Homo sapiens: one gene and its partners. The protein of the gene in region 3 interacts with the protein of the main gene of each other region in a biochemical or structural test. Each region holds a gene or a part of one and is shown on either strand. Other genes may lie near its edges.

Region 1 (5,937 bases), on a different chromosome or scaffold from region 3:
AACCTTTCCGGGTTCACGAGCCCAAGCCCCATCTCTTCCCAGAGCGCGCGCGCCCTCTGGCGCCTGAACCGGCGACTGGACGCGGTGGAGGCGTGGGATTCGGAGGCCGGGACCCCAAGCTCTGCGCTGGAGGCGTCAGGAGCCGCGAGGTCATCCGGTCTCAACCTCAGGCGCCCCTGTGCAGGCCTCCCTACACTCCTCAAGCTGCGCTCCCTACTCGTGCCACATCCCTTGTTCCGTAGGTATTGCTTCGGGGGTGACACAGTTGGCGTTAGAAGCGCGGTGGCCTCACTTGCCGGAGAGGGTCTTGGTTTTGCGCCTTTTTCCGTGGCCCGGGAGGCTTGCCAGGCGCTCGCAGCAGCGAGCCGGGTGCTTGCATCTCAGAGAGCAGCCGAGCTCCCTTCCCTGGCCCCGTACCCGCGTGCAAGGGGACCGAGCCCCGGGAAGGGGAAGAACTTGTAATCGCTTGCAGCGGGACAATGTCGACTTTTGAACCTCTAACCACTAAGCAAACAACCCATGTGCTCTTGCTCCACTGTCCAAACAGGGTTTATTGACAGGCGTTTCACGGCAACGCATAGCAACCCCGGCGGCTAGGGGGCGGGCCTGTGGGCGCGGCCGGGGCGCGGGGAGACCTGCGGGGCACCGGGGCTCAGACCGGCCCTGACCCAGGACCCCTGACCCAGGACCCCTCGCCCAGCGGACCCGGACACGGCTTCCTCCTCTGCCCGGCACCCCCCGACCCCACGCCCCGCACTCCTCCCTCTGGCTTCGAGGCCAGGCGCCCGCGGGCCGGGCCACCGGAGCCCCTTTCCCAATCCTGGAGCTGTATACGCCACCCGGAAGGGCCGCGGAATTGGAGAGGTGCTGCAGAGGGTCTATACCTCTTGCTGTTTCCCGGCTCTGCTCATCTTCCCCAACTGCCCTTAAGGCGCCTCCGTGGGCGCGCTGATTAGGCTCTCGGATGTTGGTGGGAAGATCGAAACGAAGGGCTAAGCCCCCCTCGCCCGGGTCCTGCCGGAAAGTTCAGCTCGGCGGCCTCCAGGATCAAAAATTTTAAAGGCTGCAGCCCGGTCCCCAGTGGATCGGCCAGATAACAAGAAACTGTCACTAAAAGGATCATTTTATACTGGGTCTAGAAATCTTGTTTGTGGGGTGATTGGGTTGGAAGGGGGGGCGCGGTCGGGGATAAGGAAACTGCAAAGACAGAGAAGAGAGTGGAGGCAGAAAGGGCTCACGGAAATGCCCAGTGATTTACAGAAGACTAAATTCATGGAAATGCTGTCTTGGGAAACTAGGGGGATTTTTTTTAAAAAAAATTTAATGCTCACGTTTAACTAGCTGGGTTGTGGGGCGTCCTTAGGAGGGAGTCACTGCAGAAGGGAACTGCCTGCTGTTTGCAAAAAGCCTCCATGTGGATTTGGTGAGATGCTATGAGGGGGCCCTCTCACCCCCACCCCCCATAATTTCTGACTGCTGGGAAGCACCTGGCCATTCAGATGTGCATTTTGCCCAAAGGCACCCCCAGGAGAGCCACGCATTCCAAGGCTGGGCTCAGGCTTGGGGGCAGGGAAGGTCTCAGAACCTGCTCTTTCAGGCTTCTGATGCTCTGGGGTAAAATGAGGCTGTCCAGATAATCTCCACTCCCTCTCTGAATTTTCCAAATCAGCTTGCAAGCAGAGAAGATATTTCATTTCTTTAAAAAATAAAAAATAGTTGCAGACAAAATCTGAAGATAAATACAGAATCTGAAATCTGGAAAGCTCATTTATCTCTTTTTCTTTTTAGAAAAAATTCAACTGTGTTCAAATACTCCCCACTTCCCTTCACCATATCACTTCTCCCCCCATGGATCCAGAAGGCTTTAAAAACTCTGGCTTGGATGTTACACAGACCAACAACCCAAACAGCAGCAACAACAACACAAACTCCCCCCACCCCCTTCTTCATCAGCCCCAAGATTGTGAAAATGACAGGAAGTCCAGGTTGGCTCTGGCATTTATAGCACTGACATACATTCAGCCCAGAGAAGCTCTGGTGACAGGCTCTCTAAACAAGTCCCTGTTCGGGCCCCCTGGTCAGGCCTGGAGTCCAATAACCACCCCCTCATACCACACCCTGTGCATACACCAGCCAAGCCTTTCCTGGTCTGGGAAGGGAAGAGAAAAAAGACGCAGGCCACCTGGGGGTTCTGCAGTCTTTGGTCAGTCCAGCTTTCTATCTTAGCTGCCTTTGGCTTCCGCAGTGTAAACCTTGCCTGCCCGGAGGCAGGAGGCCCAGCTGGACCTCCGAGGGCCATGAGCAGGCAGCAGCCATCTTGGCCTCAAGCTTGCCTTTCCCTTGAGTCCCTCTCTCCCCTCGGCTCTAGCCAGAGGTGCAGCCTGCAGATCTAGGAAGAGAAGAGCTGGGGAGGAGGATGAAGGCCTGGTTGGTGTGGTCAGTCCAGGCAATGCTTCTGCCAGTCCGGAATGAAGCCCAGCGGAGGCTTTCTGTCTCCTCAGTGGCAGAAAAAGCCAGATGGGAAAAAGTAAAAATCTGGGAGAGTATATTTCTTGAGGCCCCAAATCCCACTTGTCTTACTCCTGGCTCCCATTTTTCCTCTGAGAGCCAGGTCTGTAGGTCTATGGCTGTGGGTGGGAGGGGAGGGGTCTCTCCTGAGGAGTCTAGCAGAGTCCACGCTCCTCATGGCTCAGCCTGGAATTGCTCTGCCGCTGCAGAACCCGGTGGGTCACTGGGTGACGGTGGGGTTTAGCACCCCCCCAGTTGGCCCCAGAACCCCAGGGACAGAGCCAGGCACTGAGGCTTGCAGGGAAGACACCGGACTCAAGGGCTCTGGGACACTTCTCAGAGGACCTGGCTGAGGCTGGGGAGGCTGTGGTGGCGGCGGAGGCGGCTGTGGTGGCTGCTGCTGCTGTTGCTGCTGCAACTTCTTCTTGTTGATTTTCCTCTCCTTTGCTCTGCGGTTCTGAAACCAGATTTTAACCTAGAAATGGAAAGGTGGAGAAAAGCACATTGTGGTGAAGATGTGAGGGAAAAGAGGAACAGTACCCAGCAGTATCATCAACATCTTCTGCTCCAGCTACAGAACTCCAAGTCCTTCTAGAAGCTTTCCTCGGGCATCCCCATAACAGCCCAACCCTGGATCCATTCTTAGGCCCAATTCAGCCTCATGGGGAAGAGTCTTCCTCCTTCCTTGCTCCCTGAGTTTCTTTTCAAAGCAACTTTTATCTACGTATTTACTGCAAAAGTTTAAAGTCTCAGAACCAAGGAAAACTGAAACTGCAAGGCCCTTTCTACACAGCAAAGGGAGGCCAGTGCTGGGTGGTATACTTCAAATGGCAACCTTTGGCCCCTCAAGGCTAAACTAAAACGTAATTTTCCTCACCTTAGAGCTGAAAATGAGATTTAATTTTGTGGCTTCCTGGCTGTGAAGTTGGCCTGTTTTTCTAGACTATATATATAAAATGTTCATGAACCAAGTCTTGTCCCTCTAGTTTTTGTGAGAGACTGAGTACTTTATTCAGTTTATTTTCTTAGGTACAGTGCTGGAAACAAAGAGAATAGGTCTTTAATATGTCTTTATAGACCCAAATGGAATTCTGGATTAAACTAATACCCTTGGCTGTTTTTCACACTTCTTATATCCCTCAAAAGAGAGAGACAGAAAAAATCAACAACATCAAAAAAAGAGGACTAAAGGTAGAAGGAGGCTTTTTAAAAAAGTACTCCAGGGCCAGGCACAGTGGCTCACACCTGTAATCTCAGCACTTTGGGAGGCCGAGGCGGGTGGATCACCTGAGGCCAGGAGTTCGAGACTAGCCTGACTAACATGGAGAAACCGCATTTCTACTAAAAATACAAAATTAGCCGGGCGTGGTGGCACATGCCTGTAGTCCCAGCTATTTGGGAGGCTGAAGCAGGAGAATCGCTTGAACCCGGGAGGCAGAGGTTGCAGTGAGCTGAGACCGCGCCATTGCACTTCAGCCTGCACAACAAGAGTGAAACTGCGTTTCGACGGTGGCGGGTGGGGGGGCATGTACTCCAGGCCAGGCATGGTGGTTCACACCGGTAATCTCAGCACTTTAGGAGTCCAAGACAGGAGGAGCATTTGGAGTTTGAGACCAACCTGGGTAAGACAGTGAGACCATCTCTGCAAAAAATTTAAACATTAGCCAGTCATGGTGGCTCGAGCCTGTAGTCCAAGCTACTCAGGTGACTGAGGCAGGAGGATCCCTTCAGCTCAGGAAGTCAGGGCTGCAGTGAGCTATGATTGTGCCACTACACTCCAGCCTGGGCCACAAAGCAAGACCCCATCTCTGTTTAAAAAAAAAAAAAAAAAAAAAAAGGACTCCAAAGACGAATGCTTGCATCCTCCTGCTTCAGTCTCTCCACAGATTTAGATGGCCCCTGCAGCCAGATTTTCTAACTCTCATGGTCCTCTGCCAGGCAGTGGCCCGCCCGGAGGGAGCTAGGCGGTCCCCACCTGCCTCTCAGAGAGCCCCAGCGTGGCGGCTAGCTCGGCTTTCCTCCGGATGGTGATGTAGCGACTGTAGTGAAACTCCTTCTCCAGCTCCAGCCGCTGGTGGTCCGTGTACACCACTCGATATTTGTCTTTCGTCCTGGTTTTCACTGTGGAGGAAGGAGAAGTGAGGGCTGAGAACTGCAAGGCAGCCCATCAGTCATGGGTAATGACAAACCTCCCTAACCCAGGGACATTTCTCTTCCTCCACCACCCTGGGGGGCCCGGGTTTGGCTGGTTCCTGCCAAGTCTGACAAGACCCCCCAGAGGGTCCTGTGGGGGGAGGGTATGAGGCTAGTGGAGGCAACTAAACTAACCTTGGTATTAAGTGGTTTTTAAAAATTAAGGAAAGTGAAAACCTCATTCACACAGAAGACAGCAGAATGTAACCACCCTTTCGGTAAACCAAATACAGTACTGGCATATATTTGACACCAAGGGAAAGGGGGCAGGGTGAAGTGGCCGGGATCCTGGAAGCATCCAGATTTCCAGGCCTACCAGAGATGGAAGCCCACCCCGAAAACAGCTGTCATTGTGGGCACATGTTGTAGAGGGGGTGTGGGGGTTACTACTTTGCTTTACTACAAGTGGAAAGCGGGGCTCAGGAGCTGACAAGTCGCCAGAATCATCCCCCAGACACACCAGGCCCATCAGGTGGAATTCTGAGCTGGGCTCTGGCCGAGGGAACAGGCAGAAAACCCCTCCTGCTGGGGACACTTTATACCTGCCCAGACCAGGTTTGGCGTTTGGTACTTTTTCTTTTTTGATCCTCCATTTATTCCTGCTGCAAATCCGGCCAGAGTTATCCTGACCAGTGATCTATGCTCATTGGATTGAGTCAACATATTAAATCCCAGATTGATTGTTTTACTGAAGGGCCTTGACAAATAGTGTCCACAATGTTGGAGCAGGCCCGAGCCTGGCGTCTCCACCAGGTCTGTCTTGGCTCAGCCCTTGGCAGAGCCCTGGCCAGAAGCTGTTCTCTCTGGCTCCGTCCCACTTTTGGGTCTTCTTGCAGCTGAACAGGTTCAATCGCCCAGTGCCCAATCCCACAGAAAGATCTGAAGGGCCTGGGAGTTGCCTGGAGGTGTTTAATGCCCCGCAGGCTGACTTTGTTCAGGTAAAACCCTTTGCAAACCACAACAAAAGCGTCCTGGGAAGATACAGGCCTGATCAGAGGGAGCTCCCCCGAGCCGCTGAAAGGCCAACACAGCCGCAAACAATGCAGGACAAGGCGATCTTATCAAAGAAAAGCCCTTTCAATGCCTTAATAACAACCACATTCTGTTTGAATTACCACTACTGAGCAAATGGCGGCCCCGGCTTTCATCCCCCTCCCCGCCAGGCGCATTAACATAAACACGACCCTGCAGGCGCATTTGAATGGGGCTGCGGCCCCGACCCCGCGCCTGCTATGA
Region 2 (2,595 bases), on a different chromosome or scaffold from region 3:
TGGCATTCAAAAAGTTTCAGATTTTGGATTTCCAATTTTCAAATTAGGGATGTTCAACCTGTAATATGGCCCCAGACTGCCTTTCTAGACATAGGTTCCACAATGCATATAATACCTGTGCCCTTCACACCCTTATCTGTGTTCATGGTGTTCTCTCAGCCATCTCTGCCTCCCAAGAATCCTACCCAGGTCTTCAAGGCATAACTCAAAGCCTCCAGATTTGCCCTTTTCACCATTAATCACTTGCGTTCCCTTTAGCTCATTTCTTATCCTGCCACCTAGCATTAATTCACTCTAGTAATAGTTAATTAGTACTAGTTAATTGGTAATTGGTAATAGTTAATTGTGTTCCTGTTTGATGATAATCAAATGGTATCCCCTAGATGATAATGAATCTGAAGGCAAGGTGGTCTGGTCCCTGTCATTTTCCAGTACCTTGAACAGAGGAAGTGCCTAGCACAGAGGAAGTGCTTTCATTTAAATGCCTATTGACTCCAATTTGGATTGACCTGTGGAAAAGAAGTTTCTAGAGCCTGAGACCAAGTGATATAATAGTTTTATTTGAGACATAAAAACACATGTGTTTCTATTACATAGTGTGGGGTTTAGGGTCCTGGTTTCTAAGACAAGACTTTATTTCACCCTGTATCACAGCTTCCTGGGAAATGAATTAGGGAGCAAGAGACGGCCTGGCAAGAAAATCATTATTGTTGCTGGGAAGTTGCAAAGAAAGGGGAGAGTTTATTCAAATTAGTGTAACAGAGCCCCCAGGATGAAGAGAGTGGTGCAGGGAAAAGGTCTAAATTCCTGGTGTTGGTGGGGACACTGGCACATCCCACAGCAAGGACTCAGCCCTCAACGGCGGCGGCTGGGTCTTGGGAGGGGAGTGGTGGGAGGGTAAGGGCTCCTCAGCTCCCTCCCTGGACTCCCAGTTCAGTCACCCCTTCCCCCGGAAGAATTCAAAGAGGAAGGGCAGGGTCTATGTCATGGACACTGCTACTTGTTCGATGAAGCTGGCCAGGTTTATGTCCCGTTCTGAAAGGCCGGCACACTCATGGGTGCTCAGCGTGATGTGGACCTGAAATGAAACCAGAAATTCTGCTTCCACTGACTTCACTTAAGAACAGGAGGGAGTCACTAGCTGCTGGGCTCAGCCCTGCTAGGAGCTCCAGAATAGCAGCTGGCCAGTACGATCTCTCCTGGGGACTCCTTCCTGACATGTCTGTAACAACATCTTCTACATCTCCCCTTTGCTGTCTCTCAAAAATAATCATGACTTCAGCTATAGAATAAAAGCTTAATATCTGAATGTCAAGAGCAACCTAAAAGCTAAAGACAAAACCAAAAACCAATGCCAACTCCTAAACACTATCCATTCATAGACGACCTCTTCCACCCTTACTGTTTTTATAAACAGAGACCAGCAGAGCTTTTGGCACATGGTAGACATTTAATGACTGTTTCTATTCATTAAGCAAATAATTTGATAGGTTGGCTATGTGTCTGTATTTTTTTTTTTTTTTTTTTTTGAGACGGAGTCTTGCTCTGTCTCCCAGGCTGGAGTGCAGTGGCTCAATCTCTGCTCACTGCAAGCTCCGCCTCCCGGGTTCCCACCATTCTCCTGCCTCAGCCTCCCCAGTAGCTGGGACTACAGGCGTCCACCACCGCGCCCGCCTAATTTTTTTGTGTTTTTAGTAGAGACAGGGTTTCACCATGTTAGCCAGGAGGGTCTTGATCTCCTGACCTCGTGATCTGCCCACCTCGGCCTCCCAAATATGTGTGTATTCTTAGTTCAAGTTTATTACTTTTTCATTCTTCCATACCTCCAGCAAGATTAAAGCCATTTAGAGCTATGAACACTGAATAAGTATGCCTGATTCCCACAGCCTTTCCTTTCTTGGGTTTTGCCTTCTTAATGTCTACTTAAATGTCTACTTTAACCACAACTATCTCATGCATCTTTTAATTTGCATTTCTTTATAGTAAGACTGATTTTTTTTTCCCAGGGGTATTTATGTTGATTCTAGGCATGTGCAATCTCAGTGAGATTGGAAATGAGATGAGTGGATGACCTATGGGTCAGGAAGGCTCATTGTTAAGTCCAAAAGCCTTCAGAATGTGTCAGAGTTCGCAGTATTTGGATGGGGGCAGAGCACAACAGAGGCACACAGCATCACTCACCTTGTTGTACACGTTAAACCATTCAGGATGGTGGTCCAGTTTCTCAGCCTGCAGGGCCACTCTTGTCATGAACCCAAAGGCCTATTTAAGTGGAGTGAGAGCCAGGTTAGTGTTCTAAGAGAAAGGACTTCTGGACATCACCAATTCAAGGCCTAGACGCAGGAGGATGAATTAGCTTCCCCCCAGGAGACTCCTCTATAATCATTTCCCCCTTGACATCCTGTCACTGGTTCTCAGGCTTGAGTTAGAGATTGTCCTTGCAGTAGGAAGAAAGTCTTGCTATTTAGGATGTCAACAAGGTGGAAACACCACAACAGGCTTTTGGCCTGGCCAGTCTTGGCCGTCTGTTCAAATGTCTTCAGATGTGCATGGTTTCCACTTGAACTATCTCCTCAGAAGACTGCTGCTAAAAGT
Region 3 (8,017 bases):
GCAGCAAAGGCCGAGAGGAAGAGAAAGACCTGGGAAGAGATCCAGGAATTTGGTGGGGTGGAGGGAGGGGAACGAAACCAAGGCAGGGAGTTTGGACTTTATTCCTTGGCCAGGGAGGGAAACTGAGGCAGAAGGAGAGGAACAGACTTTCCCAAGGTCACTCAGGGAGCTAAGGGGGAGATCTGAAGAAAGAGCTCAGGTTCCTGCTGTGGCCACCAACATGGGGCACCCCAGGGAGGCCTGGGACCCAGGACCCACCCCGGCTTCTTCCCAGACACTGACTTCTCCCGGGAAACAGCTTCTACTAGACATTCTGCCTCTGTACCGTCTTCCCAGCCTCAACCTCCCCAATGGCCCAGGCCTTCAATAGGGGTCCCCCGCCCCTCTCTCCCTGGCTCCTTTCCTGACCCTGACGCTGGAGGCCCCACTTTTTTCACTCAGGGCGTTTTCCGATCCCTTTTGTTACCTGAACAATAAGTAACCCAGGTAGTTAGTTATAAACTCTGCAGGAACAAGGAGCTGGTTGATAATTTATAGCAACATCTCAAATTTAAATGGAAAGTAAATAGCATGCTGTTAGCATTAAAGAAAACCCAATCGGGGCAGGCGGGAAGCACTCCAGCCTCCTTGCAAGCTTGGGGCGCCTCATTCTCTCCCGTGCCCCTTCTCCCAGCTGGGTCTGAGCCCCCGCCCCCCTGGCTCCTCCGTTCTGCTTCTCCCAGCTTCTCTGTCCATCTCCCCCAATGGCCTCTCTCTACACTCTCTGCCTCAGCTTCCAGGTCTCTGCTGGTCCCTAGGAAGCACTTTGACCTCTGCTTCCCCTTCAAATGCTGTGGATCAAGCCTCCCCAACCCCACCATCCCACCAAAGGGGGCTGCTGACCGAGAGAGCTCACTCAGCCAGGTAAGAAAGCATCCCCTGCCCCCACCCTCACCCCAAAGCCCCCAGTCCCATCTGGGGCCCTGGGCAGGTCAGGCCCAGCCCCACCCCGTCAGGTTGCCTTCGCCCTGGGTCTGGGATGCCTGACTCTTTGCCCCTCCCCTGCAGCTCTGGAGTCCTTTGCCCTCCTCTTCCTGCCAAGTCAGGGGGCCCTGACTGCTCCCCTGCCCCCTGTCCAGGCCCTCGGGAGGCTCCCTGAGGCCTCTGGGAAAGCAGGAATCCACCAGCCCTCCCCCACCCCAGCTGGGATCAGGACCTTGGACAGAAAAGAGATGGGCCCCTTTGGAGCATCTTTGGGGCTCGGTCTCTCTCTGACTCCCTGGCCACCCCCTGCAGGCCTCTGGTCCCCGGTCATAGCAATTGAGAGCACCGAACAGAGTAGGTTTGGGGCCTCAGTTTGGTGAACTTAGTCTAGCTCCTTCCCGGCTCTAAGCCCCAGTTTCCCCATTTGTGAAGCAGAGTCACCAATAGCTTCTGCCCAGGACTCCTCACCATGAAGGGAAATTATTCCTGTGAAACCTCAGCACAGCGCCCAGGAAGTAGTGAACCTCCTCAAGCAGGCGCTGTAGGGTGGAGGTCAGGGAGCCGCTGGGGAGGGGTGGCCCCTGTAGCCCCCAGGCCATCCTTCCTTCTCCCCCACACCCCCATCCCCCACCCCCACTAGGTGGGAGGTGGGTTGGCCCAGATCTTTCCAGGCCACCATTCCTACAAGTTAATGATCACAGACCTTATCAGAGCCTTTTGCCATTTATAAATTTATAAAACAAAAGAGAAATAATAAAGCACATGGGTAATTAGTAACTAGGTCAGCTCTGCTGAGGAGAGGGGAGGCATCGAGCTCAGGACCCACCCAGTTCTCCAGGAGACGGGGAGTCCGCCAGCGGATGGGGATGTAGAACGGGCAGCCTCTAATGGCGCCTGCTGGTGAGGTGGGGTGCCTGTGGCCATACAGGAAAGGGGAGCAGCTCCCACCTCGAGGCTCTGTCTGCCTCAGGTAAGAAAGACCTGGGCTTCCCTGGCTAAACGCATGAGTCCCTAGGAGGCCAGGAAAGCCCCCAAACCCCAGCTTCGGGCCCTCCTCCCTGGCAGTGCTTCCTGGGCCCCGGAGCCTACCCACTGAGGACTCAGTGCAGGAGTTAGGGTCTGGAGAGTATAAATGATCAGAGTGGCTAAAAATTTCCACCACCTCCCAGTTCTCCAGGCATTTGAGTTGTGAACTCACCTGCTTTTTCTCCCATCTTGGACCCCCCTGGGAAATGTCCCCCTTGCCCAAGGACTGGGCTAAAGGCCTGGGCTCATGGGATTTGGGACTCTGCAGAGGAGCAGTTCAGGGGCTGGAGGCTCAAACCTCCAAGCAAGGACCCCTGGGCTCTCATGGGCCCTGTCCCCCTTCCCAGCAACTAGGCTAAAGGCTGAAGGTCATGGGGACTCAACTCAGAAGGGGGGCTCGTTAGGAGCTGAGGGGGGCCCCTCTAGGCTCTCCTGGGAGCGGGGACGGGGCAGGGCTCCTTACTGCAGAAGGGTCTCCACCACGGCTTTCTGGTGGGCCGCCTCCTCAGGGCTGAGGTTCTCCAGCTCTTTGAGGATGGGTGGCGTGAAGTCTTCCCCATCGTCGTCCGTCTCGTCCTCGGAGCCCCGAGTCTCCCCCAGCCCATTGGGCAGCTCAGCCAGCTCCCCTCGACCGCCGCCGCAGGACTCCCCCTTGTCCAGGGGGCCTTCTCCAGCCAGGAGGTAGGGCCCCGGCTCACCCAGTGCCTGGATCAGTGCCTCTTTGCTCAGCCCTGACTCGAGCAGGGCCGCCAGGAGCTCCGTCTGCAGCTGGCTCAGTTTAGAAACCATGGCTCGGCTGCCACAGGGCCACGCGGCCCGGGTCCACCACGCTAGCCGCCTCCCCCACCGCGTGGGTTGCGTTTGCCTGCCGGCCGGCAGACACAAACCAAACTCCTTGCACCCACTGCCCCCCCAAAACCCCACTAGCCAAGCCCTGTGGGCACCCCCAACCCCCAACCCTGGCCCCAGCGGCCCGTGAATCAGGGCCCCTGCCTGTTCTGTTTACATTGGAGCTGGGGAAATTCTCCAAGGTTCATATTTATCCGTGTGCTTAGCGAAGGGACTGAACTTTGGACTTCAGCCCTGCAAAGTGCAGGCCTCATGGCAGCGGAGAGGGACAGGGAGCTATGGCCTGCGATGGGAGTGGGCAGAGGGGAGGGTGGGGGAGGCGCAGGTGAGGGGCCCTGAGCAGCTGGGATGGAAGGTGCTGGGAGCCAGGGAGGCCATCAGGAGAGCAGCGTTGGGTCCCACCCCCGAAAGAACCTTGTAGGGGCATCATGCTGAGACAGGAGAGCCAAAAATGCTTGCTGCTTACGAGAGCGGCAGCAGCAGGGAGCTCTAGACAGCTGGGCTAGCTCTTCTCAAGGGCAGAGGATGCTCACGGCCATTTTGGGGCCCTTCCATCCATTTTGGGACCCTTCCACCCCACTCCCGGCCTGACACCAGGCCTCCCTGTAGGAAAAAATATGTTAAGATTACCATGTGCCAAGAACAGTGCTGGCTCTGTGAGGGCGAATTCACTTCATTGCATTCTGCTACCAACTGTGAGCAGTTACAGAGATTATCCCCATTTTATAGAGGAGGAAATCGAGGCTCTGAGCGGTTAAGTAACTTGTCCAGGGTCATACAGCCAGCAAGGCAGAAAACATGCAAGGTGAGACTGAGTTGGGATGAGTGTGACACTTGCCTCAGGTGCAAATTTATTTTTTTATTTTTTGAGCTATGTTCTCACTTTGTCACCCAGGCTGGAGTGCTGTGGCGCGATCATGGCTTACTGCAGCCTTGACTTCCTGGGTTCAGGTGATCCTCCCGCCTCAGCCACCCAAGTACCCAAGTAGCTGGCACTACAGGCACGCACCACGACACCCAGCTGATTTTGTGTGTGTGTGTTGTGTGTGTTTGGGTTGTGTGTGTGTGTGTTTTTGAGACAGAGTCTCACTCTGTCACCCAGGCTTGGAGTGCAGTGGAGCAATCTTGGCTCACTGCAACCTCCGCCTCCCAGGTTCAAGCGATTCCCCTGCCTCAGCCTCCGGAGTAGCTGGGATTACAGGCACATACCACTACACCCGGCTAATTTTTTTGTATTCTTTATTGAGTTGGGGTTTCACCATGTTGGCCAGGCTGGTCTTGAACTCTTGACCTCAAGTGATTCGTCCGCCTCGGCCTCCCAAAGTGCTGGGATTACAGGTGTGAGCCACTGTGCCCGGCCTTGTGTGTGTATTTTTTGTGGAGACAGGGTCTTGCCATGCTGCCCAGGTTGGTCTCAAACTCCTGGACTCAAGCCATCCGCCCACCTCAGCCTCCCAAAGTGTTAGGATTACAGGCGTGCGCCACCATGCCTGGCAGCCCAGGTGCAAATTTTAAGGGAATGCCAAAAAACCCAGTCATCAAGGTAAATAACATTTTTATGCAATATGTTTTTAAAATTAAAATGAATGCAAAACCCCAAAGAATTAAAAACAGATGTCTATACAAAAACTTGTGCGTGAATGCTCATAGCAGCATTATTCACAAGAGCCAAAAAGTGGAAAAAACATAAATATTCATCACCTGATGAATATATAAACAAAATATGGCTTGACCATGCAATGGTATAGACATATATATTTTTTTCTTTCTTTTTTTTTTTTTTTGAGATGGGGGTCTCGCTCTGTTGCCCAGGCTGGAGTGCAGTGGTGCAATCTTGGCTCACTGCAACCTCCGCCTCCCGGGTTCAAGCAATTCTCCTGCCTGAGCCTCCCGAGTATCTGGAACTACAGGTATGTACCACCACGCCCAGCTAATTTTTGTATTTTTGGTAGAGATGGGGTTTTACCATGTTGGCCAGACTAGTCTCGAACTCCTGACCTTAGGTGATGCCCTCGCCTTGGCCCCCCAAAGTGCTGGGATTACAGGCATGAGCCACCGCATCCAGCCAATGCAATGGTATATTATTTGGTCATATAAAGGAATGGAGTTCCAGTACATGCCACAACATGCATGAGCCTTGAAAACATGATGCTAAGTGAAAAAGTGGTCACTAAAGACTACATAGTGTGTGAGTCCATTTATCTGAAATGTCCAGAACAGGCAAATCCATAGAGACAGGAAGTGGATTTGTGGTTGTCAGGGCCTGGGTGGGAGAAGGGAATGGGGAGTGGCCACTCCATGGTGCTGGGTTTCTTTAGGATGATAAAAATGTTCTACAATTGATTGTGGTGATATCGGACAACTCTGTGACTTTATTAAAACCCAATGAATTGCACATTTTAAAAGGGCGAGTTTGATGGTATGTAAATCAATAAAAATATTGTTGTAGCTTTATTGAGATATACTTACCATACAATTCACCCATTTCATGTGTGCAATTCTGATTTTTTTTTTCATTTTTATTTATTTTTATTTTTTGAGACAGGGTTTGGCTCTGTTGCCCAAGCTAGAGTGCAATGGCATGATCTGGGCTCACTGCAACCTCCGCCTCCTGGGCTCAAATCATCCTTCTACCTCAGCCTCCCGAGTAGCTGGGACTACAGGTGTGCACCACTGCACCCAGCTAATTTTTTTTTTTTTTTTTTTTGTATTTTTGGTAGAGACGGAGTTTCACCATGTTGCCCAGGCTGGTCTCAAACTCCTGGACTCAAGAGATCCTCCCATCTCAGCCCCACAAAGTGCTGGGATTACAGGTGTGAGCCACCATGCCCGGCCTCAAAAAATATTTTTTAACTAATGTAAAATAATCTGTGCTGAACAAAATAGCAAACATCTAAATACAGGCCCTGTGGCCAGGCACAGTGGCTCATGCCTGTAATCCCAGTACTTTGGGAGGCCGAGGTGGGTGGATCACCTGAGGTCAGGAATTTGAGACCAGCCTGGCTAACATGATGAAACCCCATTTCTACTAAAAATTTAAAAAGCTGGGCATGGTGATGCACGCAGGAGGCTGAGACAGGAGAATCACTTGAACCCAGGAGGCGGAGGTTGCAGTGAGCCGAGATCACGCCATTGCACTCCAGTTTGGGCAACAAGAGCAAAACTCTGTCTCAAAAAAAAAAAAAAAAAAAAAAACAGGCCCTGCCCTCACCCACCAGCCACATGTGGCTACCAAGCACTTGAAAGATGGCTAATGTCACTTCTTGAAATGATAATTTTTAAAAAATATATTGAGTTAAATTTTTAAATTAAGAAAATTTTGGCCGGGCGTGGTGGCTAACGCCTGTAATCCCAGCACTTTTGGGAGGCCAAGGTGGGTAGATCACCTGAGGTCAGGAGTTCGAGACCACCCTGACCAATATGGTGAAACCCCATCTGTAATAAAAATACAAAAATTAACCTCAGGAGGCTGAGGCAGGAAAATCACTTGAACCTGGGAGGCGGAGGTGGCAGTGAACCAAGATCATGCCACTGCACTCTGGCCTGGGTGATACAGCAAGACACTGTCTCAAAAAAAAAAAAAAAAAAAAAAAAGACAATTTAAAAGTTAACATTTAGGCCGGGCGCGGTGGCTCACGCCTGTAATCTCAGCACTTTGGGAGGCCGAGGTGGGCGGATCACAAGGTCAGGAGATTGAGACCATCCTGCCTAACATGGTGAAACCCCGTCTCTACTAAAAATACAAGAAATTAGCCTGGCGTGGTGGCGGGCGCCTGTAGTCCCAGCTACTTAGGAGGCTGAGGCAGGAGAATGGCGTGAACCCAGGATGCGGAGCTTGCAGTGAGCCGAGATCGCGCCACTGTACTCCAGCCTGGGCGACAGAGCGAGACTCCCTCTCAAAAAAAAAAAAAAAAAAAAAAAGTTAACATTTAGAATAATTTTAAATTAGATTTAATTAAAATATTATTTATATATTATACAAATATAATGTTATATTTAGTTTAAAATAATTTGGTTTAAATTAAAATTTTATTTATAAAAATAACTTTTTATTTTAAAAATTAAAGAAAATAACTTCACCTGTTCCATTTTACTTTTTATTTTTTTAAGAGCCAGATTCTTACTCTGTCACCCAGGCTGGCATGATCATAGCTCACTTCAGCCTAGAACTCCTGGCTTCAAGCAATCCTCCCACCTCAGCATCCCAAGTAGCTGGAACTACAGGTACGCACCATCATGCCCAGCTTCATTTATATATTTATCTTTTTTGTTTGTTTTTTGAGACAGGGTCTCCTTCTGTCGCCCGAGCTGGAGTGCAGTGGCACAATCTTGGCAAACTGCAACCTATGCTTCTGGGGCTCCCGTGATCCTCCCACCTCAGCCTCTCCAATAGCTGGGACTACAAGCGTGTGCCACCATGCCTCGCTAATTTTTGTATTTTTTAGTAGAGACAAGAGTTTGCCACATTGCCCAGGCTGGTCTCAAACTCCTGAGCCCAAGCCATCTGCCCACCTCGTCCTCCCAAGGTGCTGGGATTACAGGGGTGAGCCACTGCACCCTGCCTATTTATTTACTTTTCTTAGAGATGGGGGTCTTGCTTTGTTGCCCAGGCTGGTCTCGAACTCCTGGGCTCAAGCAATCCTCTCACCTCAGCCTCCCAAAGTGTTGGGATTACAGGCATGAGCCATCTCACCTGGCCAGTAATGTATTTCACTCCAAGAACAACTCATGAATTAGGAACTGTTATAATCCCCCTTCTGCAGGGGAGGAAAGAGAGGCTCAGAGAGGTTAAATGACTGCTCAGAGTCCCTCAGAGCTGGGCTTTAAGTCCACCTGAGGCAGGCGGACGGGCTGTGCAGGACAAGTTGGCAGCCCCCGCCTTAAGGAGAGTGGTACCCTCTTTCCTCCAGTGCATTTATGTTTTATTTTTATTTTTGAGACAGAGCCTCACTTTGTCACCCAGGCTGGAGTACAGTGGTGCGATCTCAGCTCACTGTAACCTCTGCCTCCTGGGTTCGAGCAATCCTCCTACCTTAGCCTCCTGAGTAGCTGGGACTACAGGCACACACCACCATGCCTGGCTAATTTTTGTATTTTTGGTAGAGACAGGGTTTCACCATGTTTGCCAGGCTGGTCTCAAACTCCTGGCCTCAAAAGATCCACCCACCTCGGCCTCCCA
Region 4 (6,352 bases), on a different chromosome or scaffold from region 3:
TGAGGGTAAATTGAGATAGAGGTACTTCAGAGGGTACCCAAAATGGCTGGCTTCAAAGTGAAGAATGGGGAGGAACAGAGCCCAGGTTTTCCATATGATCTCTCCCTCTGAGGTTCAGAAAGGAGTAAAGGTGAGGGGTGAAAGGTCAGAGTTCACTCATTCACACCACAGATCTCTAAGAGCATCCATTGTGTGCCAGGCCCTGCTGTAGGCACTGGAGGTATAGTAAGAACAAGAGAAAGTCTCAGCCCTGGGGGAGTTTCTTTCCTAGACAGGTGGAACAAATACAGACAGCAACCAAATACATGATGTGCCAGCAGCCCTTACAGTTCTTCCTCTTGAGGTCGGAGGTGAAGGCACGTCCTCAGTGCCCACCCCTCACCCTGCCCTGCAGGTATTGCCTGATGTGCGGCTACTGCCTCGGAGGCTGCCCCTGGCCTTCCGGGATGCAACCTCAGCCCCGCTGCGTAAGCTCTCTGTGGACCTCATCAAGACCTACAAGCACATCAATGAGGTGGGCAGGGGCTGGGGGATCCTGGGCTGGGTGCCGAGGGTCTTGTCTGCTGGCATGAGTCACTCACCAGTCCCCATCTCCTGGCTGGCTGGCTGGGCAGGTATACTATGCGAAGAAGAAGCGGCGGGCCCAGCAGGCGCCACCCCAGGATTCGAGCAACAAGAAGGAGAAGAAGGTCCTGAACCATGGTTATGATGACGACAACCATGACTACATCGTGCGCAGTGGCGAGCGCTGGCTGGAGCGCTACGAAATTGACTCGCTCATTGGCAAAGGCTCCTTTGGCCAGGTGTGGGACACCCCCCACCACCCTGATCCAAGGCCCCACTAACATTGATCACACACCCAGTGGTTCAGTGGCTTCAAGTCCCATGCTGGGCCACTCACCCTAGCCCACTTAGTTTCCCTGTGCCTCAGTCGCCTTTTCTGTAAAACAGTTTAAATAACAAGACTCAACATAAGGTCGTTATGTTATTTCACATCCAGTGTTTACACCAGCGCCTGACTAATGGTGCGCACTCAGCTGCGAAGTATGCATAGTGTTCTTGGTGGGTCTCCTTGCCTGGAGGGAGAAGAATGGTGCCTGGCTCTGCCCTGCTCCCACCCCTTTCTTCGTGACATGCCCTGCCCCAACAGGTGGTGAAAGCCTATGATCATCAGACCCAGGAGCTTGTGGCCATCAAGATCATCAAGAACAAAAAGGCTTTCCTGAACCAGGCCCAGATTGAGCTGCGGCTGCTGGAGCTGATGAACCAGCATGACACGGAGATGAAGTACTATATAGGTGAGGCCTGGGACTGGCAGGGCTGTGGGCACCTGGGATAGCGGGAGCTGGAGCCAGTAGGGATGGGTCACACCCCCGCCCTACTCTCAGGAGGAGGCTGATGTCTTCAGAGCAGGGTTTGGTCTGTGCTTCTCTGACATCAGTGATTCTCCTGCTGCTTTTATGATTTTTGTCCTATTTTCTTGGTAATGGTCAGAGGTTACTGAGTGCTCACCAAGGGCCAGGCTCTCTTGGAAGCACTTGGAAGTTAACTCACCACAGCCCATAAGGGGAAGGGCATTATTAACAACATCTTGAAGATAAGAAACCTGGGCTTCCATCCTAGTTTCTTCTTCAATAAAACAAACAAAACGGGCTGGGCACAGTGGCTCACGCCTGTAATCCCAGCACTTTTGGAGGCCGAGGTGGGCGGATCATGATATCAAGAGATCGAGACCATCCTGGCCAACATGGTGAAACCCCGTCTCTACTAAAAATGTGAAAAAATTAGCTTGATGTGGTGGTGCGCGCCTGTAGTCCCAGCTACTCAGGAGGCTGAGGCAGGAGAATCGCTTGAACCTGGGAGGCGGAGGTTACAGTGAGCTGGGACCACGCCACTGCACTCCAGCCTGATGACAGAGCGAGACTCCATCTCAAAAAAAAAAAAACCCAAAACAAACAAAAAACCAAACCTAATAACAACAACAACAGTTACAACAACAACAAAAAAAAACGAAGAAAGGAAAAAAGAAACTCAGGCATTCAAGTGCTGTCACTTGCATGAGGTGGCAGTTTGTACTAATTGAGCTATAATTTGATGAGGTCGTGGACTCCAGAGCTGTTACTCTTAACATCTGTGCCAGTCTTTCTCCTCCCTTAAACTGATTCCTGCTCATGGACATAAACATCACAACATAATCATAAACAGCAAGTGGATTTTAAAATGGTTTCGTTTGAAAGGAAAACGTATATCCTTAAAGTAAACGGAAAACCAGTGTCCTTTGCCACAAAAATGAATACAAGGGAGATGAAAGCAGTGTTATGAAATTAAATGAGGAAGTGTAGAATGTGTTAGAGCTAGTAGTAACTAATGAAACTTTCTCTTTGGTTTAATTGGAGGGTTTGACAGAGACTTGGAAAGAGCATTAACTTCCTGTGTGAATCTAGTTGTTAGATAAAAAGATTTTGACTAGCAGATGGTACCCGTGGGGACAGCACAATGTGGCTAGTAATCAAAGAGCGTTGTATGACCCCAGGCCACCACCTGCCCTCTCTGAGCCGTTTCTTCTCTGGCCCATTTCCTCCCCTCCCCCGCAGTACACCTGAAGCGGCACTTCATGTTCCGGAACCACCTGTGCCTGGTATTTGAGCTGCTGTCCTACAACCTGTACGACCTCCTGCGCAACACCCACTTCCGCGGCGTCTCGCTGAACCTGACCCGGAAGCTGGCGCAGCAGCTCTGCACGGCACTGCTCTTTCTGGCCACGCCTGAGCTCAGCATCATTCACTGCGACCTCAAGCCCGAAAACATCTTGCTGTGCAACCCCAAGCGCAGCGCCATCAAGATTGTGGACTTCGGCAGCTCCTGCCAGCTTGGCCAGAGGGTAGGGGGCGGCCCGGTCCTGGGAGCACGGCTAGTAGTTTGGGTGGGGCAGAGCCAACGGGAGGCTTAGGGGCGGGGCTTGGCTGGGATGGGATTATTAGGAGCCGTGGGAACTGAGGGATAATGCTTGGGGTGGGGGTGTGAATATACTGCCCACTAGGATGGGAAGGGTGAAGCCTGAGGGGCAGGGCCCATTTTGAAGCTGCCAGATGTGAACAGGGTGAAGTTGGGTTGGGTTTGAGCCAGGGGTGCTGCCTCGCTAAGTTTTTGTCTTCTCTGTTCTTAAAGCTGAGGATGGAGGTGGAAGGCTTCAACTTTGCAGCTCTGTATGAGCTGCCACTAAAAGTGACGATGGTATAGGGCTTATGGAATGTCAGCCTCTGCCTGGTGACCCAGAAGGGCCCAGGATCCGGGTTGGGGGTGGAGATCAGGGTCTGTCTAGGCCAGCAGACTCCCCAGATTGATAAACAAGATGGCACCAGTGGCTCCCAGAAAATTGGTGCTGATAATGGCAGGATTTGGAGCCTCAGTCCCCATTTTGTCAGCAAGAAGCCTGTCCTCAGTTGGGTCCTCTTAGCTTTGGGGGTGTCAGTGGGACCAGTAGGGGAGGCTGGGTCCCTTGACGATTACCCTTTTCCCAGATCTACCAGTATATCCAGAGCCGCTTCTACCGCTCACCTGAGGTGCTCCTGGGCACACCCTACGACCTGGCCATTGACATGTGGTCCCTGGGCTGCATCCTTGTGGAGATGCACACCGGAGAGCCCCTCTTCAGTGGCTCCAATGAGGTGTGCCCCCAGGAAGGGGTGTGCTGGAGGTGGAGGGGGTGGAGCCTGGCTGGCCTGATGACCTTGACCCCTGCCTGCTCACAGGTCGACCAGATGAACCGCATTGTGGAGGTGCTGGGCATCCCACCGGCCGCCATGCTGGACCAGGCGCCCAAGGCTCGCAAGTACTTTGAACGGCTGCCTGGGGGTGGCTGGACCCTACGAAGGACGAAAGAACTCAGGAAGGTGCGGCCCCTGCCCCATGCCACTCCTCCCACCCCGTGGCCCCTCACTCACACTTGGGGCTCTCTCCCCCTGCTCCCTCTCCCTTGTGTCTTTCCCTTCCTTCCACTCCCCCTTGTCTGTCCTTTCCTTCCTCCCCTGCCCACCCCATCTCCCATCTCTCCTTCCCACCCCACAACTCTTCTTAGCTTTTCTTTCCACTTTCTCTCTTGTGCCTCTGTTTCCCCGTGTGTGTCTCCCTGCCCCTCCTGCCCACTGACGGCCACTCTCTTGCCCCCCCTCCCACCCCCTCCCTGCCAGGATTACCAGGGCCCCGGGACACGGCGGCTGCAGGAGGTGCTGGGCGTGCAGACGGGCGGGCCCGGGGGCCGGCGGGCGGGGGAGCCGGGCCACAGCCCCGCCGACTACCTCCGCTTCCAGGACCTGGTGCTGCGCATGCTGGAGTATGAGCCCGCCGCCCGCATCAGCCCCCTGGGGGCTCTGCAGCACGGCTTCTTCCGCCGCACGGCCGACGAGGCCACCAACACGGGCCCGGCAGGCAGCAGTGCCTCCACCTCGCCCGCGCCCCTCGACACCTGCCCCTCTTCCAGCACCGCCAGCTCCATCTCCAGTTCTGGTGGGTGCCCAGGTGCCCAAATGGGGTACAACGGGTGGGGGCTGCTCAGGTTTGGCCTGTCCTGGGGGACCTGGTTACTGGGTCTTCACACAAAGCGCCGAAACTGATCCTGAACTGTAAGATGACGTGTGGGATGGGAGAGCTCCAACTGGCCCTGACACAATCACTGAAATTGGGCTCAGAGCCCTGAAACTGGTTCTGACTCTAAAACCCAAAACTGAATTCCAACCCAGAATCTCAGAATTGGGCCCGGTGCTTCAGATGGGCTCTGCTCTTGAAGCCTGAACCTGAGCCTGGGCCGTGACCTTCCCTCAGCCATCCCAAAACCCACTCGCCACCTTCTCTCACCTTATGCCCCTTCACCTCTCCTCCCTGGCACTTCCAGGAGGCTCCAGTGGCTCCTCCAGTGACAACCGGACCTACCGCTACAGCAACCGATATTGTGGGGGCCCTGGGCCCCCTATCACAGACTGTGAGATGAACAGCCCCCAGGTAATGGGGCTTTGGGGGCTTTGGAGGTGGGTGGTGGTGCCTGGGGCTTAGAGACCAGGGTCTCCATCACCCATGGCTCCTTTGCTTTTTTAGGTCCCACCCTCCCAGCCGCTGCGGCCCTGGGCAGGGGGTGATGTGCCCCACAAGACACATCAAGCCCCTGCCTCTGCCTCGTCACTGCCTGGGACCGGGGCCCAGTTACCCCCCCAGCCCCGATACCTTGGTCGTCCCCCATCACCAACCTCACCACCACCCCCGGAGCTGATGGATGTGAGCCTGGTGGGCGGCCCTGCTGACTGCTCCCCACCTCACCCAGCGCCTGCCCCCCAGCACCCGGCTGCCTCAGCCCTCCGGACTCGGATGACTGGAGGTCGTCCACCCCTCCCGCCTCCTGATGACCCTGCCACTCTGGGGCCTCACCTGGGCCTCCGTGGTGTACCCCAGAGCACAGCAGCCAGCTCGTGACCCTGCCCCCTCCCTGGGGCCCCTCCTGAAGCCATACCCTCCCCCATCTGGGGGCCCTGGGCTCCCATCCTCATCTCTCTCCTTGACTGGAATTGCTGCTACCCAGCTGGGGTGGGTGAGGCCTGCACTGATTGGGGCCTGGGGCAGGGGGGTCAAGGAGAGGGTTTTGGCCGCTCCCTCCCCACTAAGGACTGGACCCTTGGGCCCCTCTCCCCCTTTTTTTCTATTTATTGTACCAAAGACAGTGGTGGTCCGGTGGAGGGAAGACCCCCCCTCACCCCAGGACCCTAGGAGGGGGTGGGGGCAGGTAGGGGGAGATGGCCTTGCTCCTCCTCGCTGTACCCCCAGTAAAGAGCTTTCTCACATGCCTGCCTGAGCGTTTGCAGGGCCTCGGCTCCCCTCACCCGACCCTCAGAGGCATGGTGGGGAAGGGGGTTTGCGGAGGGGGTGCTGGAGGAGCTCTGGTGTGGAGACGTCTCGTGGGGAAGCTGTGGCGCGTGTTGCAGGCATGAGTCTGCAGGTCTGGGGCATCAGCATTCTAGATAGATCGTGGACAGGATCCTGGCCTACATTTGCCTTTTCCTGGGTAAATAGACCCTGAAAGGGTAAAGGTTCAGCTCTGGCCTGTCTCTGGGAAACAGGTGCCCTAATAAGCCGGGGCGTCCGCAGACTTAGCACAAGAGTGGCTCCTCATGCCAAGCAGGCGTCCAGTAGCAGCTGAGTACACTTAGGAGGCTTTGTTGGTGCCATCTGGGGAACAGGCAGACAATAGGTACAGACTCTGTCCCCACGTGTACTGTCCAGCTCTTTGGAATCATCGCGAAACAAAGAGTTTTGAGATTCTGAGACAAAAAGATTTTCCCGGGGTTCCAGGTAAGTGGTCCTGTTT

What was found.
Region 1: the proteins of HNF1A (region 3) and CDX2 form a complex in vitro, tested with the Homo sapiens proteins (one study listed by BioGRID).
Region 2: the proteins of HNF1A (region 3) and PCBD1 form a complex in vitro, tested with the Homo sapiens proteins (one study listed by BioGRID).
Region 4: of the proteins of HNF1A (region 3) and DYRK1B, one has a biochemical effect on the other in vitro, tested with the Homo sapiens proteins (2 studies listed by IntAct, with this or other methods).

What each region holds. Positions count from the first base shown.
Region 1 is NC_000013.11:27,960,387-27,966,323, forward strand, and holds the end of CDX2 (homeobox protein CDX-2), read right to left. Parts: intron 4,654-5,937; coding exon of another isoform or gene 4,630-4,653; coding exon 4,484-4,629; intron 2,984-4,483; coding exon 2,729-2,983; 3' UTR 532-2,728; downstream 1-531.
Region 2 is NC_000010.11:70,882,971-70,885,565, forward strand, and holds the end of PCBD1 (pterin-4-alpha-carbinolamine dehydratase), read right to left. Parts: intron 2,263-2,595; coding exon 2,182-2,262; intron 1,079-2,181; coding exon 980-1,078; 3' UTR 540-979; downstream 1-539. UniProt on the Homo sapiens protein: Involved in tetrahydrobiopterin biosynthesis. Seems to both prevent the formation of 7-pterins and accelerate the formation of quinonoid-BH2. Coactivator for HNF1A-dependent transcription.
Region 3 is NC_000012.12:120,973,530-120,981,546, reverse strand, and holds the start of HNF1A (hepatocyte nuclear factor 1-alpha), read right to left. Parts: upstream 3,005-8,017; 5' UTR 2,779-3,004; coding exon 2,453-2,778; intron 1-2,452. UniProt on the Homo sapiens protein: Transcriptional activator that regulates the tissue specific expression of multiple genes, especially in pancreatic islet cells and in liver. Binds to the inverted palindrome 5'-GTTAATNATTAAC-3'.
Region 4 is NC_000019.10:39,824,826-39,831,177, reverse strand, and holds the end of DYRK1B (dual specificity tyrosine-phosphorylation-regulated kinase 1B), read left to right. Parts: intron 1-394; coding exon 395-514; intron 515-614; coding exon 615-803; intron 804-1,150; coding exon 1,151-1,298; intron 1,299-1,375; exon of another isoform or gene 1,376-1,462; intron 1,463-2,594; coding exon 2,595-2,881; intron 2,882-3,521; coding exon 3,522-3,668; intron 3,669-3,752; coding exon 3,753-3,893; intron 3,894-4,190; coding exon 4,191-4,506; intron 4,507-4,891; coding exon 4,892-4,998; intron 4,999-5,091; coding exon 5,092-5,463; 3' UTR 5,464-5,828; downstream 5,829-6,352.